Linked DNA regions of Homo sapiens. The protein of the gene in region 2 binds, or shares a complex with, the protein of the main gene of each other region. Each region holds a gene or a part of one and is shown on either strand. Other genes may lie near its edges. The genes, in order: GID4, RANBP9 and ARMC8. A codon is read from its position in the direction of its gene.

Evidence for each region.
Region 1: the proteins of RANBP9 (region 2) and GID4 are in contact, whole or in part, in a cryo-EM structure (PDB 7NSC), measured with the Homo sapiens proteins. Residues at the interface, in NP_005484.2 of Homo sapiens: Ser223, Lys224, Gly225, Arg226, Asp227, Gly228, Tyr229, Met230, Gly256, Asp257, Thr274, Phe275, Thr276, Thr277; in NP_076957.3 of Homo sapiens: Leu187 (codon at 2,408), Arg189 (codon at 2,402), Asp194 (codon at 2,387), Glu195 (codon at 2,384), Asn216, Asp218.
Region 3: the proteins of RANBP9 (region 2) and ARMC8 are in contact, whole or in part, in a cryo-EM structure (PDB 7NSC), measured with the Homo sapiens proteins. Residues at the interface, in NP_005484.2 of Homo sapiens: Tyr271, Gly298, His299, Ser300, Leu301, Gly302, Ile303, Asp337, Asp340, Tyr341, Arg343, Glu344, Thr347; in NP_001350870.1 of Homo sapiens: Gln245, Arg246, Asp247, Val277, Leu278, Lys279, Ile317, Ile320, Thr321, Asp322, His323.

Annotation. Positions count from the first base shown.
Region 1 is NC_000017.11:18,049,157-18,056,594, reverse strand, and holds part of GID4 (glucose-induced degradation protein 4 homolog), read right to left. Parts: intron 2,469-7,438; coding exon 2,361-2,468; intron 1-2,360.
Region 2 is NC_000006.12:13,708,525-13,716,369, forward strand, and holds the start of RANBP9 (ran-binding protein 9), read right to left. Parts: upstream 3,312-7,845; 5' UTR 2,982-3,311; coding exon 2,411-2,981; intron 1-2,410. UniProt on the Homo sapiens protein: May act as scaffolding protein, and as adapter protein to couple membrane receptors to intracellular signaling pathways. Acts as a mediator of cell spreading and actin cytoskeleton rearrangement.
Region 3 is NC_000003.12:138,294,932-138,298,942, reverse strand, and holds the end of ARMC8 (armadillo repeat-containing protein 8), read right to left. Parts: intron 3,085-4,011; coding exon 3,051-3,084; 3' UTR 570-3,050; downstream 1-569. UniProt on the Homo sapiens protein: Component of the CTLH E3 ubiquitin-protein ligase complex that selectively accepts ubiquitin from UBE2H and mediates ubiquitination and subsequent proteasomal degradation of the transcription factor HBP1.

The DNA.
Region 1 (7,438 bases), on a different chromosome or scaffold from region 2:
AGGACCAATATGAAATGGAAAATAGAGTTGAATGGGAGAGAGGCTGTGGTTTACTACAAGGAAGAACCTTCTACTCTGGGACTGTACAGGAGAGGAAGGAGCCATCTCGTGAGGCAGCAAGCCATGCAGGAAGAGCCTAGCCCTGGGCAGGGGTGGGCGCAGATGGTACTAGGGAGCCCTTCCAACTCCACCTGCTGGTGGCCAGCACCTTCATACACCACTTGGGCTCCCCCAACCTTCTGGATACTCAGGTCTTGTGCATTCTCTTGTATCACAGAGAGACACAAATGACTGTCTAGTTTTTAGTGTCCATTTGCTACAACAATCAAAATGTATAGAATTCAAAAAACGCTTTAAAAAGCTCAAGTTTAAATTTAAATTTAACTGAACCTCAGTATTTGATAGATCTCCTTTTTTTACTCAAGTAAAAAACAGCTTGGGGCTGGGCATGGTGGCTCACGCCTGTAATCCCAGCACTTTGGGAGGCCAAGGCAGGAGGATTACTTGAGGCCTGGAGTTCAAGACCAGCCTGGCCAACATGGCGAAACCTTGTCTCTACTAAAAATACAAAAATTAGCCAGGCACGGTGGTGCACGTCTGTAATCCCAGCTACTTGAGAGGCTGAGAGATGAGAATCACTTGAATCTGGGAGGCGGAGGTTGCAGTGAGCAGAGGTTGCAGTGAGCCGAGATTACGCCACTGCACTCCAGCCTGGGTGACAGACTGAGACTCTGTCTCAAAACCAAACCAAACAAAACAGAACAAAACAAAACAAAAACCCCCATAAAAGAAAAACCAAAAAAACAGGTTGGGTCAGTGGCTCACACCTATAATCCCAGCACTTTGGGAGGACAAGGCAAGAGGATCACTTAAGATCATGAGTTCAAGACCAGCCTGGGTAACATAGGGAGACTCTGTCTCTACAAAAATAAAAGAAAATGAGCTCAGTGTGGTGGCACGTGCCTGTAGTTCTAGCTACTTGGGGCGCGGAGGTGGGAGGATTACTTGAGCCCAGGAGGTTGAGGCTATAGTGAGCTATAATCATGCCACTGCACTCCAGCATAGACGACAGAGCAAGACCCCAACTCTAAAAAAAATTTTTTTTAAATAAAATAAACAAATAAAAAACATTAGTAAGCAAAGCAACTGATCTCTAGTGAGGTGAACTCAAGACAAGGGTCTGCGGGAGTTCTCTCCACAGACTGCTGTGCCAGAACCAGGGGAGAGTTTAGATAGCCAGGTGTGAGAGGCAATGGGAAGAACGAGTTCTAGAATCTTTGCTACTGACACAGCCATTTCTGGTTGGTTTATGGAGGGTAAACCCATTGAACTTCTTCAATGTTAAACAAAAATTCACCATCACCATGGTCAACTAAAGCAAAAGGCTATTAGGTTGAGAAAATGATTTTTTTTTTTTTTTTTTTGAGACGGAGTCTCACTCTGTTGCTCAGGCTGGAGCGCAGTGGCACAATCTCGGCTCACTGCAAGCTCCGCCTCCTGGGTTCACGCCATTCTCCTGCCTCAGCCTCCAGAGTAGCTGGGACTACGGGTGCCCACCACCACGCCCAGCTAATTTTTTGTATTTTTGGTAGAGACGAGGTTTCACCGTGTTAGCCAGGATGGTCTCAATCTCCTGACCTGGTGATCCGCCCGCCTCGGCCTCCCAAAGTGCTGGGATTACAGGCGCAAGCCAACGCGCCCAGCCGAGACACTGATTTTTGAAGACATGGTACTTATATGACAACAAATGAAAAGATCCCAGGACACTAACTGTCTTGAAGCATTCACTACTGCTGAGTGAGAATGCTCTACACTTGACAGTTAAAAAGGGGGGCAGCAGGATTTATAGTGGTGTACTTAAGACAAGACTATACTTGTCTGTCAGCAGCCAGGATAAAAAGAAATGATGTGGCTCTGCCCTGATAAGCCAGTGGGCAGGCAGATTCCCACAACATCATCTCCATCTCATGCCAGCCCCGAAGCCGGAGGTCATCATTGCATGTTTCACAGGGTTTTCCCCAAGCAGAGGTGATTTGAAAGGAACAGTGGACAGAAGATGGACAAACAGGTGGGAAGGATGGGGGGACACTGTTAAGATTCTGATAGCTGAGCAGAGTTCTGGCTGGAACTCTGGGGTTGCTATCATCAGACAACCATTTGCTATTTAAGCAGCAGGTCAGATCGTATTTAAACTGTCCTCATAAGGAAGATGGAACAACTGAGGTCTGTGTGCAGTGCAACCTTTTACTTGGTTGCAAAGCCCCAGTAATCCTCAATAAGGGACAAGGTCTCTGGCTCCCAGCATTTCTTCAATTCTCTAGCAGCCCCTAGATGACCCAGCACAGATCAGATTTACTCACCCAGTGTTTCCGATCAACATCTTCATCTGCATCCCACTTGCGAGTTAAGAAAGGGTGTTTTTTGCTGATTATTTCTCCTTCGAAGAAGGTTGTAAGGGTTGGATACTCCTATGGTAAAAACCCAAATATCAAAATAAGATGTTGAGTGAGAGTTTTTAACCTTTGTACAAAGGAAAAATAAACTTTGCTTTAACTTCTTTCCAGTACCTAGACACTGCTACCTGACAATCCAAACCAGAGTTAGATCGCAGCCAGTTTGCCAACAGGCTGTGGCAATGGACCTGAATCTAAATCACCCAGAGAATGAAGGGTTTCCTGGATTTTGCCAGCAGCAGACAGCCCTTCTTTGACTTCAATTGTTACATGCTAGTCTCTTAGAAAATAATTTGGATGTTTCCACAAATAAATTTTTAATATTCTAGCATACAAAGCAGATCATAACTTGGTAGATTTTACTTTCCAAGGTTAGACCCAAAGAGGCTCCAAAATCACTGTGTCTACCACTAAGGCTCCCTCAAGCCACTGGTTCTCCAACTGGCTCAGTCATTTGTCCCTTTTACACCAATTCTCCAAGGTTCCAGGGTGGATTCTGGGGTAGAATACTTTTTTATTTTTCCTGAGACAGAGTCTTGCTCTGTCGCCCAGGCTGGAGTGCAATGGCACAATTTCGGTTCACTGCAACCTCCTCCCACACCCTGGGTTTATGTGATTCTCCTACCTCAGCCTCCCGAGTAGTTGGGATTACAGTTGGCTGCCACCACGCCCACCTAATGTTTGTATTTTTAGTAGAGACGGGGTTTCGCCATGTTGGCCAGGCTGGTCTCGAACTCCTGACCTCAGGTGATCCACCCGCCTTGGCCTCCCAAAGTGCGAGGATTACAGGTGTGAGCCACCGCACCCAGCCTAAAATACCTTTTATTTTGGCCAGGCATGGTGGCTCACGCCTGTAATCCCAGCACTTTGGGAGGCCGAGGTGGGAGGATCACCTGAGGTCAGGAGTTCAAGACCAACCTGACCAACATGGAGAAACCTCATCTCTACTAAAAATACAAAATTAGCCGGGCGTGGTGGCGCATGCCTGTAATCCCACCTACTCGGGAGGCTGAGGCAGGAGATTGCTTGAACCTGGAGGCGGAGTTTGCAGTAAGCCGAGATCACGCCATTGCACTCCAGCCTGGGCAATAAGAGTGAAACTCTGTCTCAAAAAAAAAAAAAAAAAAAAAAAGTAAATACTTTTTTCAGTGTTCTACATGTTCAGAGAAACTTCTAGTAATGAACTATACAAATGGTCCCTGAAGGTAGTCTTAGAATACCTTGATACATAGGGATACGTTTAATTCTGTCACATGAACTAAGAACAACTTATATGAGGAAAAACATATGAACTAAAAACAATTTATATGAGGAAAAACATATGTAAATCATGTCTGAATGTAAAAACCACACCGTGGAAAACGTAAGCAAGAAGCCATGTGCTGGCTTGGGTGCTTTGTTAATTGCTCTTTGTTCATGTGTTAATAAGTAGGCACCAATGATTTTAAAAAAGATTAATAAGACAAAAAGTTAACACCGTAAAAAGTCTACATTTCTCTGCATTTGTAGAAACCAACCAAGCACCCACCTCTCAGGCTACCTTGCCAAGCCCCTGGTGTCTGCCAGGAGCATGGTTATGAGAGTCACTGGCCTGGAAAACCACAGATTACAGTCCTAACATCAAGGACTGCAGAAGGCCCACGTTTTTCCTTCAGATCAGATGTAAGCCCCTCTTATTCTGCATCAAAAACCTCATTCTGATGGCTTTGCCACATCTACCAACCTGGCCTGCATGTAGTGTAGGACCTTCCTGAGAGAGGCTGCCACAGTAAAAGCCACTGGTGCAGAGGCTCCCAGGAAACAGAACGTCACCACCGCTGCAGGTGGCTCAGGAGGCCTGCTTTAGGATGACACCATGGAGGGGATCTGTTTCCTTAACAGTGAACTTAAAATATGATAAATCTAATACTGCCCCAAACCCACAACCCCCCTATCCTAACACTGTTGCTGGATTCTTCACATAAATATTTAAATACATAGACTGAAAAAATGAGAGAGGAGAAATTTTCCTAAATGTAAACCTAATTTTTAAGGTATAAGCTAACTTTTTTTTTTTTTTTTGGGGGGAGGGACAGAGTCTTGCTCTGTCGCCCAGACCGGAATGCAGTGGCACGATCTCGGCTCACTGCAACCTCTGCCTCCCGGGTTCAGGTGATTCTCCTGCCTCAGCCTCCCAAGTAGCTGGGATTACAGATGCATGCCACCACGCCTGTCTAATTTTTTGTATTTTTAGTAGAGACAGGGTTTCATGGTGTTAGCCAGGACGGTCTTGATCTCCTGACCTCATGATCCACCCGCCTCGGCCTCCCAAAGTGCTGGGATTACAGGCGTGAGCCACCGCACCCAGCCGGTATAAACTAACTTTTAATTATAATCTGTTCTAGGAAAGACTACTAAGGAAAAAAGTTCTCAATAAATCAGCACCTGCATTTGAGATTTTAAACTAGAAGCTATTTTTTTTTTTTTTGAGATGGAGTCTCGCTCTGTCGCCCAGGCTGGTGTGCAGTGGTACAACCTTGGCTCACTGCAACCTCCGCCTCCCGGGTTCAAGCAATTCTCTGTCTCAGCCTCCCGAGTAGCTGGGATTACAGGTATCCACCACCACGTGTGGCTAATTTTTGTATTTTCAGTAGAGACGGGTTTCACCATCTTGGCCAGGCTGGTCTTGAACTCCTAACCTCGTGATCCACCTGCCTCGGCCTCCCAAAGTGCTGGGATTACAGGCATCAGCCAACTACAAACTGTTTATATTATTTTTCCGAGTTTCAAGCTTTAATCTTTTTTCTGAACTTCCTTGAAAGGGATAGGATGAAATGATAAAGAGGTTTTAATACAAGGCCAAGCCTGGTGGCTCACACCTGTAATGCCAGCACTCTAGGGGGCCAAGACAGGAGGATCACTTGAGCCTAGGAGATCAAGATCAGCTTGGGCAACATAGTAAGACCCGGTCTCTATTTTTAAAAAAGGGAGGGGTGGGGAGGAGGTCCTAATATGATTAAAACACTTATGGTTTAAATCACTAGTTTTCTTAATGAATAATTCTGCATTGACTTCTTTGTAAACATACTTTAGGCAGTATATCAGGGTAACTACAGGGTACCCTCAAACTTTGAGAATTAAATAAAATAAATACCTAATAAATGAGATTCAGTGTGTACAGAAGTCACTGAAAAGATAAAATATTCTCAGAGCAGGAACAGGAAATTCAAGCACTTTATTACAGCCCAATGAGGGGTAATTTATAGAGCGGACGAAAAACCATGTCAGAAGAAAGGATATCGAGAAATGAATAACAGAGGCAGCAAAAGCAGGAGTGGGCATCCCTTGGTGGGTCTGGCTGTTGTCAGACATTTAAGTCCCCCAACTAATCCTCCCACTGATTCCAGGCTCACCCAAAACTGTGTGGTGATAGGTACCACGACTTTCCATGTAGACCTGTCTTCTGGAGGATTAACATTCAATTGGCCAATAAGTCAACAGGAACTTCTGGAACATACAGGAATCTCATTCTCTGACAAAAACTGGCACTTTTGTTTTTGTGAGTTTTGGTAGGTGTGACCTGTCTCCCTAGTTAAGCACAAGTCTAGCACAACTTCAGCTGGAGCTTCCAACCCTTCCAAACCCAAGTAATGAGTAAGTGGGGGGCCTGCCCATGGCCCCCAAAGGCTGGGCTCCCAGGTAACCCCTGAAAGCTGCTGGGTTCCCCGGAAAGGTCGCCTCTCTTGACTGACGGATGGCTCAAAAGTGCAAAAAGAATGTTATTTCATATTTATTCTTTACATTTCTAGAATTTCACTTCCAGAAGGCATGAAAACAAACTTTAAAGCTCCGTTTTGCAATGTGGCAATTCCTCAAAGAGTTAAAAACAGAACTATCATTCGACCCAGCAATCCCATTATTGGGTATACACCCAGAGGAGTATAAATCATTCTACTATAAAGATACATGCATGCAAATGTTCACTGTAGCACTATTCACAATAGTAAAAAGTGGGTCAACCTAAATGCCCATCAATGACAGATTGGATAAAGAAAACGTGGTATATATACACCAAGGAATACTATGAAGCCATAAAAAGAAATGAGATCATGTCTTTTGCGTGAACACGGGTAGAGCTAGAGGCCGTTATCCTTAGCAAACTAATGCAGGAACAGAAAACCAAATACTGCCCTTATAAGTAGGAGCTAAATGATGAGAACTCATGGGCTCAAAGAAGGAAACAATAGGCTCAAGCCTGTAATCCCAGCACTTTGGGAGGCTGAGGCAGGCAAATCACCTGAGGTCAAGAGTTCAAGACCAGCCTAGCCAACATGGTGAAACCCCATCTCTACCAAAAGTACAAAAAAAAATTTAGCCTGGTGTGGTGGTACATGCTACCTGGGAAGCTGAGCAGGAGAACTGCTTGAACCTGGGAGGCAGAGGTTGCAGTGAGCAGATATTGCACCACTGCACTCAAGCCTGGGCAACAGAGCGAGACTTCATCTCAAAAAAAAAAAGAAGGGAAGAACAGACAATGGGGCCTACTTGAGGGTAGAGGGTAGGAGAAGGGAGAGGAGCAGAAGAAATAACTATTCAGTACTAGGCTTAATACCTGGGTGACAAAATAATCTCCACAACAGTTACATAGGTAAACCGTGACATAAGTTTATCTATAGATCAAACCTGCGCATGTACACCCAAGCCTAAAATAAAAATTAAAACAAACAAACAAAAAAGCTGTGCTTGTTTGTGAATGTGAGGTAGCTAAGAGGCCATTTAGCTCCTTTTTTTTTTTTTTGACACTTATCTCCTTTTTTTTTTTTTTTTGACACGAAGTCTCACTCTGTTGCCGAGGTTGGAGTCCAGTGGCATGATCTGAACTCACCACAAACTCTGCCTCCTGGGTTCAAGCGATTCTCTTGCCTCAGCCTCCTGAGTAGCTGGGATTACAGGTGCCCGCCACCATGTCCAGCTAATTTTTGTATTTTTAGTAGAGATGGGGTTTC
Region 2 (7,845 bases):
TCGTCACTCTGGAAAATAATTAAAATCATTCTTTTGAAATTCTGTAATACGTGAATATATGAATAGTAGTTTTTACTGTTAAAAGTGTCTCATGATACTTAGGTAAAACCAATGCAGCACAATGATAGGTTAAATAAAAATTCACTCTTCTTATTCTGTGATTTTAAAGTATTATCTACTCTCTATGATACTTCTCCTTTGCTACTGCTACTGCTACTGGGACACAGTTGCCCACCACAATCGGCGTGGTCCTCTCACAAAACACGCAGAAAATCAACAGTAACAACGGAAAACTCACACACACACACACACACACACACACAGTCTACAGTAACAAGACAAGAGGAAGAGGCAGTAGAAAGGGAAAAAGACTTTCTGACAAGGGGTAAGAGAGAGACAAAGGAAAGATAGAAGAGAGGAAAAATAAAAGGATAACAACAAAATCTGTTCTTCCAGAAATAATGATTTATGTTTATAAAACAGTTATGTTCCCAGAAAGTGAACCTTAGTATTACACAACAGAAAGTAATAAAGAGGCCAAGAATAAAAACAACTGAGACAGCAGTGTCAGAAATATTCCAAACTCCAACTAATTTCATATAAACGTGTATTTTTCTCTGACCTAATCATCAATTTTATGTAAAAGACTAAAACTAATCAAGACACCTTACAGTACTAAATAAACAGTAATCACGAATCTTAGACATCACGGAAATTCAGAGCTGGAAATTTCCTTACCAATCGTCCAGCTCAACTTACACACCACTCAGAGGAAGAAACTGAGGCTCAGTCTTGTAAAATATCTACAACCACAAACAACTGCAGAACTCAGGAAATCTAGAATTCTTTGTTCATCTACACTGGCTCTGACTTTATGAGCAAATTATTTACTGTCAACCATAAATTTAAAATTATAAAATTCTGTCACATCTAACAATAGCTTTCTGGCAGCCAGATCAGAAGTAAACACCTCATAACATAGCACCGTTCACACAAATTAAAACATAAAAGTAGAAATACTTCACAAGGAAATTAACAAAAGGTCCTAACTTGAGAAAAAACAAAGATTTGATATTGTGAATGAAACGTTCAGACGTTTAGATTAAGGAGGATAACACTTGGAAGTACTTCTTTGGATGTATGGCGAGAATAAAAAGAATGTTCAACAAGGCCTATTTTTGTGCGTGATTCTTTGCAGCCAAATCATTTGGTAGATTTCTATTGCCATTCGCCTTTCTGATTAAATAGTAACTTACTTATCAAGCTTCTTCTCAAATTTCAGTCCCGTATAAGTTAAGAATTTAACCACAAGGTTGTTTATCTCCTCTACATACATGTCACTAGGATCTGAGTAGACCCCTTTACAGCCAATCAAAGTGAGGCTGCCGTGAATGTAAAAGCTTCTGCTTTAGGTTTGGGGCCTAAAACCCTGGATTTGTTTCCAGACAAGACTGATACGTTAGGTTGATTTTTTTTTCTTCCACACAAGTAAACTTGATACATGCTATTAAATTGGGCTACATTTCAATAGTTCCCATAGCAATTCATAATTTTATATACAACTGATTTGCTTCCAGCTTTGTTTTAACCTAGGAGAGGTAGGTGAGGGAGGAAAGGGGCAAGCACAAGCCTAAGGTTGTTGTTTTTAACTGCAAGTGCAAAACATAAGCCAATTTTCTTCAAAATACTAAGCTGCATTTTGTTCCATCTTCGTTTTCAACAAGACTTCATGTGATATCAACACCTAAGGACCTGTATAGGGCACTTCCAATCGGGAGGGGTAGGTTTCTGCTCCCCTAAGAAAAAGGGTGTTCCTGGGGTTCCCTTCTCTTACCCTCCCGGTTGCTTTTACTAAAATATATTGATGGCAAACTTGGGCCCCTTGTCCTTTTGTCCCCCTAGACAATCTCTGGCCTAATTTTGATTACTCCTCCCCCTGTGTATCCCTGCTCTCTCTTAATTAGAAATCATACCTCAGAATCGTGCCTCTCTTCCCCCCTTGTAAGAGGAGAACGCCTGACCCACCACCTGGAGAACAATGTAACCCAACTCCGAGTCCATGGATTCCTCTACCCAAGCCCCAAGATTTATCTCCCAGGGAAATCAGAAAGCCAGTTCTGTCCTGTCATCCCGGATTCCCTCAAGGTGTCCTGCTCCTGGTCTAGGATTACCAGCTCCTTTCTACCCTGGGGCATTCTACTCACCTTCCTTTTCCAAGAATCTCGCCCCTCACCCTCGGACCCTTCACCGCGACCCCCGCGCCCACCCGGAGCAGCACAACAGGCGGCGAGTGGCCTCCGAGGGCAGAGCCCGCGAGGGCGGGGGTCGGGGGCGGGTCGAGAGCGGCGCAGCGGCGGCCGGCCACGTCGGGTCAGTGCCCCACTCCCACCGCAGGACACACGCCCAGTACCTTTGTAGTGCACCCGCAGGTTGTTCTGAGAGAGGCCGATGTAGCTGAACTTGTCCTTCGGGCTCCAGGACCGAGGCAGCGGCGTCTCTTGTTCGTCCACGGCCGGGTAGAGACGCTTCAGCCGCCGCTGCAACTCCTTCTCCTGCTCGTTCAGGGCCGAGTCCCCGTGAGGGAAGGGGGCCGCGGCGCTGCTGCCCGCCACCAGAGCTGGGGTCGGGGCTCCTCCAGCCGGGCCGGGGCCCGCTGCAAGGCCCGGGGGAGCGGGCGGCCCGCTGGCGGGGGCAGCCGCTGAGGCAGGGGGAGGCGGGGGCGGCGGCGGGGGCGGCGGGGCCGCGGTGGCCGGGGGCGGCGGCGGCGGAGGGTGGAGGAGCAGGGCGGCCGCCGCGGCCCCTAAGCCTTCGCCGCCCGCACCGCCGCCGGGCGAGCCGGCCGGAGAAGAGCCGGCGCTGACGGCCGGGGGCGCCGGCAGGACGACTCCGGAGACTGGGGCCAAGGCCGCCGGCGGTGGCGGCGACAGCTGCTGCTGCTGTTGCTGCTGCTGCGGCGGCGGCGGCGGCGGCTGCCCGGACATCCCGGCCGCGACTCAGCCTGCGGCCACCTCCACCTCTTCTCTCCTTCCTCCTCTGCTTCCCGGGGGCGCTGTCGCTGCGGCCGCCGGCACCAGGCGCCCAGTCCGCCCGCCCCGGAAGCAGGCGGCGGGCCGCGCGCCCAGGGAGACCGCGGCGGTTGAGGAGCTCGGAGACGCGGGAGTAGGCGGCGGGCCCGGGAGGCCGGGAGAGAACGTTGGCCGGAGCGCGGGCGCGCGGCCCGGGGACGAGGCGCCGAGGGCGGGGGCGACGCGGGAGCGCGGGAGGGGAAGGCGCGCTGGCGGCCGCCGCGGCCGCTGCTCTCGCGGCTGTTTCCCGGCGGGCGGGCCGGGCCGGCGCGAGACGCTGCGCGCGGGCGGCGCTAGGCGAGGGGGCGGGACGGAGGCGCGAGAGAGGCGCGAGCGGTGCGAGGGGGCGGGCCGCGGGGCTCCCGGCTGTGCGCCGCGAGGCGTCCTCCCGGGCCCGCCAGTCGCTCGTGGGCAGGATCGCTGGGCTCCCGGCGCCGCAGGTCCCTTCGGAGGTGTCCGCCTCCTCTCCCTTGGCGGCCGCCGTCGCCCCCCTCGCCGGCGAATCCCCTCCCACTTGACTTCTTTTTGTTGTCGTCGCCCCACCTCCCCACCGTAGGGCTCCTCGGAGCCGAGGCGCCGCTTCTCGTCCAGGCGAGAGTAATCGAGCCCCGCTGGGGCCGCCGCGAGCCCAGGCCCCGGGGCGCTCTAGGACCCGTCGGCCCGGGGCGTGCGGAGCGGCTCAGGCTCCCCGCGCAGTGCTGCTAGCTCTCGCCTCAGTCCCGTTCCCGTTTGCCGCCTCCCTCCAAAGAGGAACGCATTGCCTTTGGTACTTCAGTGTTTAATTCCGTAGCATTGACCATATGGGCAGTAGAAACCACTTCTGAAGGCAGTCTCCCACTTAGAATAGTGACTGTTTCATTAATTAATTTTACGAGGACTCACAGTGAACTTAACAGTGGTAGAAGATGTCATTAATAAAGACCGGCATATCTTCAAAAAGCAGGAGCAGGCACTGTATGAATACAAGATTATAGTGTGTGTTTAGGAAGGGCTTCTAGAGACGTCAGAACATTTTATAGACTCGTTAATTTTCATAACAGGGTTCTTAGGTAACAGAAAATTATGCCCATTTTTAAAACAAGGAAATATTTACCGAGATCAGCAGAGTCAAAAATAGGACTTCCTACTTTGCAATTCCCAATAGAATGCTTCGTCGACTAATTTGGCACAACTTGCCAAGTGTTGCTCTCTGACCCATCATAACATTACTACTTTGTTTTCACCACTTCCCTTTGTTTAGCTTATCCCTCCCTAGCTGGCAAAATCAGGCTTTGCATATGTAAATTGTGTGATGTAAATTCTGATATTTTGTTTGCTTCCAAAGATATGATGGTAATCATTTGGTCAAATAAGAAATGTTTTGCCGAAGAGAAAATTATTTCGTTTTGAAGAAGGTAGGCCAAAGGTGATTTAATTTAAGGCCAAGATTATCTGGCCAGAACAAATAACAGAGTCATTCGGCCTAATTTCTCCCTCAGTTACCCAGACAACTAGATGTTCTGTTGTACTTTTATTATTATTATTATTATTGTTTTGTCGCCCAGGCTGGAGTGCAGTTGTGTGGTCTCAGCTCACTACAACTTCCGCCTCCCGGGTTCAAGCGATTCTCCTGCCTCAGCCTCCCAAGTAGCTGGGACTACAGGCATGTGCTCACACCCAGCTAATTTTTGTACTTGTAGTGGAGACGGGGTTTCACCATGTTGGCCAGGCTGGTCTCGAACTCCCGACCTCAAGTGATCTACCCGCCTCAGCCTCCCAAAGTGCTGGGATTACAGGCGTGAGCCACCATGCCTGGCCTCTGTTGTAGTTTGATAGAAATATCCATTAATTTTAACCTGTTGTTTGATGACTTTTTTTAAACCACTGCACTTTGAATCACATGATGTCACTGTATTTACAGTGTTCTAACACTTTCATTTATATTACAGTAACAATGAGTTCAATGTAAGCCAAGCTCTATTTAAATGTACGATAGCCATGTTAGAATAAATGGGCTCCAGACGTCATTAAACTTTCTTGAAACACTTTTGAAGATGTACTTTTTTTCTGTCAGCACACTTAGGAACTATCTAGAACTTTCCGTATCTTAGGAACAGCTGAAGGAATAGAATTGTCTAACATTTTGTTGGAAGCATTTTATAAGGGGGACTGGTGGTTCTCCATCAAGAAATTAATGATTTCAGTTGTGGGGGAGGATGCTGTGAAATGAGTACTTTCTCATATAGAAGGAGATAGAGAACATTGATAACGTCCTTTTGGAAAGCTACATACTTGGTTATATTTATAAGGAGACATAAAGGAGTTCATACCTTTTGACTTATCTATCAAAAAGCCAAACAACACAATCTAAATATGAAAATACTTTAGGCTGAAAAATGTTCCACAAGAAGTATTAATGGTAGATTAAATATAGAAGCAAATCAAATGCCCAACCGGAAGAGACTAGAAGAAATTCTAGTCACATGTGAAATTCTAATCACATACCCCACTCAGTGGAGTTATGCTACAGGAGCACATATAGCACATTCGTGCCATTTTTTTTTAAGGTATCCCTTCTGGGCAGTGGAAGTGCCAAAAGAGGTCAACCAATTAGAAAAAGGCACCCCTTCCTCTTGACTTAGTGGATCCTGGGCCCACCTTCAGACCCACTCTCTCCAGGCTTCTTGCACAGGCACAGCCTGAAACAAATATTTTATGGCCTCTTAAAAATATGTTATTGAAGACATAGAAAAATGATTATGATATGCTAAATGAAAAGAGGCAATACGATAATTATAGCACTGCCAAAATCATTACCAAAAAGACATGAAGGAAAAATTGTAAAATGTTTCCATAATGGACAATTATAATGCATTATTAAAAGTAATGTACTTTTATTATGAAAATAATAGAATTGTACATAGATATGTAAATAGTAAAAATCCATTAGCCATGAACATATCCACACCCTTCTTGAACCTATGTTTTCAGTCTTTACCATGTATTGCTCTAATATTACCCAGTATCTGTATCTGCTGGGTTTCTCAGTATCGAACAATAGGAACCAATTCTGGCTCTCTTAAGCAAAAAAGGAACTTACTGGAAAGATATTAGATGGTTCTCAGAATTGACCAGAAGGCTGGACAAGCAGGCCTGAAAACTGACAATGGCCAAAGGAGGAGAGGCTGCATAAATAGACTGGCCTGGACCCCAGCACTGATCACAGAAATCACTGCCAGATGTCACCTTCAACACCTGGACTCTTATCTCTCTGACCTCCAGCCTTTACACCACTCACTCAAGTTTCAAAGTCACCAAGCCTAGATTGTGTGCCCATGCCAGAATACACCAGCAAGCAGAGATTCCCAGGTTATCCAGTGACTGGGTTACAGAGATGCTACGTTATTGATAACTTCAGCTCAGGGTGGGCCTTGAGTGGTTACAGCCACCAGAACTGGTCCCTTCCAACAGTGAGCAGTCTTGTGCATTCAGAGTACCATACACATCTTATTTTCTGTGCATGGCATAACATGAAAATGTTTAGGACACATTGCCCTAGTGGAAAAGGGCCACTGGTGCCCACAGTAGAGGATTTTCCATACTAGGAAAGATACTAGGAAAGAGGTAAGATGCTGACCAGCCTGTTTCAGTCAATGCCCATGACAGTATCCTTCTGAGTACTGGAAAATGTTATGGCAATGTGTGCCAAGATCTATAGTATGGTTTTAGGGTCTGGATTAGTTATCTATGGCTGCAGAATAAATAATCCTCAAATTTAGTGGCTTAAAATAACGTTTATTATCACACATTTTCTGTGGGTCAGGAATCTGGCACAACTTCACTGGATCCTCTGCTTCAGGGTCTCTCATGAGCATTAAAGGTGTCAGTTGGGGTTGCAGTCATCTCAAGACTTGACTGGGGAAGAATCCACTTTCACACTCACTGATGTGGTTATCACACTCATTGATGCAGTTCCTTGAGGGCTGCTGGACTAAGGGATTCAGTTTCTTGTTGGCTATTGGCCAGAAGTGGCCCATGATGCCTTGCCACATGGGCACCTTCAACATGGCAGCTTGCTTCATGAAAGCATGCAAGCCAAGGCAATCGTGGCAAGACAAAAGTTACAGTGTTTTGTAACCCAACCACGGAAGTGACATCCCATCACTTTTGCCATATGTTTGTTAGAAGTGAGTCATCAGTTTCATCCCATATTCAAGGGGAGGGGATTACACAAGGCTATGAACACAAGAAGGTGAGGATCATTGAAGGCCGTCTTTGGAAACTGACTCATACAGGGTCCTTGTAACTTCCAGTGACCCTGGGGAACTGCACTTGCCACATTCACATCAAATATGGATTCTAGACCAGGGATCAGCAAACTTTTTCTGTAACAGGTTAGATAGTGAATATTTTAGGCTCTGCGGAACATAGTTACCTGTCGCAACTACTCAATTTTGCCATTGTAAATGAAAGTAACCATAGATGATACATAAACAAACGGGCATGGCTGTGATCCCGCAAAACTTTATTTACAAACATAGGGAGCAGCCTGGATTTGCCCTACAGGCTTCAGTTTGTGATTCCTGTTCCAGACTATTACATCAACGTTCCTTATAAACCATTCTCAACACTAAAAATGAAAGCCAAGTCACTAGCAATGAAATCCTAGGAGTCAACAAATTCATTTTATTACCCACAATGCGTGCTGCACTCCAGTGTCCGAGGCAGCCTGATGCCACACGAATGGAGTAAGCATATTTCTGCACGTAGTGTGGCAAATTCAAATGGATGACAAATGGCT
Region 3 (4,011 bases), on a different chromosome or scaffold from region 2:
CTCTCAGAGGTTCCCACCATGATTATTCCCTCTCTTGCTAGCCACCTCATCATCCTCCCGCCACTCTGGCGCAGGTGTCCTTGGCTTTGTTTCCAGTGAGGCCTTGAGATAGGAGATGTGCCTACAATTCAGAGATGGGAAAAGGTGGCAGTGCGTAGTAGACGAAGAGCACCTGTGTGTCCTTGCAGAGGGATAGCAAGCTCTTGCATACTGTGGTAGTGGAGATGCAAGCTGGTGGTAGTGGAGATGGGGCATACCTAAGGAGAAGAGGATGGAGGGGGTGGACATGATATTGGGGATGGGATATCTTGTGGCTGGGAGTGGCCACCTGTGAAGGGTCTGCTGGCCTTCAGAAGGAGGCCAAAAAGAGAGGGGTCCCCAGACTGCTGCAGATGCCTCTGGGAACCACACTTACCTTAAGGCACTGGGTCCCACTCTGAAATGCAAAGCCACTTCCCAGCCCTTCATTTACCAAGAATCACAGGTTCCAAAAGCGTGTACACATTATCTTCTGATGTTTCCTAATGTTCTAGACATTTGGAAAACAGACTCCTTTTTAGAAGTTGCCATGATTTTTCTTGGCTTTTATTAGCATGTGTTAAAATCATATTATCCAAACACTACCAGAAGAACATGTATTGTTCTGAATAAAGTGCTTAAAGAAAAAAAAATGCAACTTATTAAATTGGACATTCTTTTCTAGTTCATAAATTTTGGATTACAATCAGGGCACAAAAGGAGAAACAGAATGCAGTATTAGAGCGAGAAGCTTAGTTAAGAACTTGGGTGTAGACACAATACCATGTCCACTCTTCCCACTTCCTTGCTGACTGAACACTGCACCTGCATAAAGCAGCAAACAGCTTTGTTTCAATAAATACATTTCCCTTCATTCAAATCAGAAAAGTTAATTATAGTAAAGCATTTTTAATTTGACCATCTGTTTATACCCACAGGCAAAATTTATCCACAGAGTTTAAGTGTGAAAGTGTTATTTCATTGGGCCTTCAGCTTTCTAATGCTATTTGGGTTCAAGATTGTCTCAGCAATTCATTATTGGTTTCTTTATATTTACCTAGTACTATTTAATACCAACACTATAGTGTTTTGTGTTAAAAATGCCAACCAAGGATATTTTCACAGTTCTAGAAACGAGTGGGCCTGAGGCTTTCTTCCCAATAAACTAAGTTTTCTTTTAACTGGGTTTCTCACATTAGCACTCTGATATCTGCACAAAACCAAGTCCTGTTGTGACAGATTTTAAAATCGGTGATGTTCTGAAAAAATAGTAACTTGGAAGTCTCTGTGTTTGAATCTTGGGTGGTCATGTTGAGAGCAGGAAAAATTGCATTAAATACATTTTTAAAACATTCATTTGCAACCAAACATTTAAATCTTCCAAGGAACGTGCAGGGTGGTGATAGGGCAGCTGCAGTGTGAGCAACCCCATCAGGAGTGGCTGGTGGGTGGGCTTGGAGCTCCATCAGTGGCACACACTCACCGCAAGCTTCTGGACCGCAGACCTTGCATCCTGGTTGCGAAGCCTTTGACCTTCTTTTAGCAAAGAGAAAAGGTAGGCTGCTTCTACCTTCAAACAGTCAAGAGCAACTTCTGTTGAGTTCACCTTGCTGCTGACCCAGAAGTTGGAGCAGGGGCCAAGCTAAGGGGTGCAGAAAGGCTAACAGTACTTGCTGTAAAAAGAAGTCATCTTCAGTCATCCTGGGGAGATTCCCTTGCCCCTCTCTCAACTTGAGTGCTTTTAGCTTCATGCAGGAAAGATTTTAGTTGCATCTTTTATTAAATTTCAATCTCGTTTTACAAAAGCATACCAACTAGCAGTCCTGAGCAACTAGTATGAAATTTGCTGAATACAGCTAACAGAAAGCTTTCTAAACTATCCTGTTCTTTGTTTCTTTCTACAGGGGTGTCTGTAGAATATTCTTTAGTTTCACAGTGATATATGCTGTTTCAGGAAGCACAAGGTATTCTGTTTCTGGGAAGTGATGACCTACTTTTAGTTTGAGCACAAGTTTCCATGACTGGTTCTAAATCTGGCCAGATATTGCTAATACCAATGACAGGAGTTAGGGCAATTGGGAGGCTCTTGGTCCCCAGTTCCTGTCAAGGGTAAGCCCATCTGGGTCATGGCTGGGCTTTCACTATCAGTAGTTATATTTCCCTTTGATGCTTCAAAAAGCCTATGGTGAATCTGTTGCCTCACTTTACTTCTCCATTTGACTTGGAAGCCTGAGAACTTACTGAATTAGGATGAAAAAAGGCTCTGTACCTGCTAATATTGACGGCAGTAAGATGCTAGCTTACTATTTTGCACAGCACCATGTATAGTGCCTGTTAATCAGGCCAACTATAGCCAACTTTTTCTTTTTTTTTCTTTTTTTTTATATAAAGAAAATCTATGTAAGTTGAGGTTCAGAAATGCATATATTTTTTACTTACAAATATTCATCTGACCAAAATTCAACATAACCTTTATGGAACACTTAACAATTGTTTTGTTTTTAAAATAACATTTCATTCAAACTGTATATAATTCAGTAAAGTTTTTTATACAGCAAGCAATGCTTAAACCCTGGAAAATCTGTAGAAAAGAGATTTTCACACAAAATAAGAAAAGAAAAATCTGAGGTATCCCTCACACACACACATCCATTCATTCTGGCCCATGTACGTGCACATACACACGCATGCCTGTGTGTTCACACAGACATATTCATTCTCACTCACAAAGTGGCTGCAGCATAGGCAAAAATTGTAGGTCCAAAGGAAAATGATTGATTGTTCTAATAAAGAGTCCGAGTAGCTCAGAAAAAAAAACCAAAACAAAACACAAGAGTCTTCTGAGGAAATTACTACCTCAAAAAAATGTTCTCAAGATGAATTTGAGATCTAAGCCTACTAAACTGCTTTTGCAAAACAGCTCCCTGCAGTCCAAGGTGACTTGTGCAAATAGAAGGAATCAAATGAGGCTGGTTCCTGTACTTCCTTAAACAAGGAGGTGGGATGCTCGCAGGTGCCCAGGGGCACTCCCATCATGCCAGGTACTGCTGCAGTGCCATCTTTGCCCTGAAATCACAAAATTCCTGTTAGCCATCATCTCAGAATTGTAATTGGGGTAAAAAACCCTATGGTTCAATGATGATAGCTGGGGAAGTCTAAAAAAGTAAATCTCCAGAGGGAATTGGGGTGAGCCCAGGTGGGCACCTACCTTAAGGGGAAGAGATCTGCAGTGGGTAGACACCTGAAATCTACTCTGGCTATATTCTTCTTCCTGTGGATCTCTCAGAGGGCTGTTCCTGCACTTAAACCTGCTGCAGCTCAGTGACATTCCACAGTCCCTGGTATGTGCTGACATTCTATGTTTTCTTTTGTCACTGGCATATAGTTGTGATAGGTCTTACATTCTTTACTTTTTCTTACTGCCATGTAGGTTTTATGCAGTGAGGCACAACACTAGGGAGAACACTTAGGGTTCTGGGAAGCAAATAAGAAAACTGACCGAGGAAATGGTGTTGAGGTGATTAGAAGGTGCATGGAAGGGGCCAAGAGCCCATGGGATGAGGCTGTCTTATGCTTCACATGCCTCAGAACCGTGGAAGAAGGCTACAATTTCATCTTGTTCTTCTCATCACACCTGATGACACCATAACTGATCAATGTGAGATGTGTGTTGTTACGGTGATGGGGGAAGAAGGTGGCCAGGTGGAAAGGAAAAGATAGAATGTAGGCCGGGTGCTGTGGCTCACACCTGTAATTCCAGCACTTTGGGAGGCTGAGGAGGGCAGATCACCTGAGGTCAGGAATTCAAGACCAGCCTGGCCAACACGGTGAAACCCTGTTTCTACCAAAAATACAAAAATTAGCCGAGTGTGGCAGCGGGCACCTGTAATCCCAACCACTTCGGAGGCTGAGCCAGGAGAATGGCCTGAACCTGGTGGGTGGAGGTTGCAGTGAGCTGAGATGGTGCCATTGCACTCCAGCCTGTGCGACAAG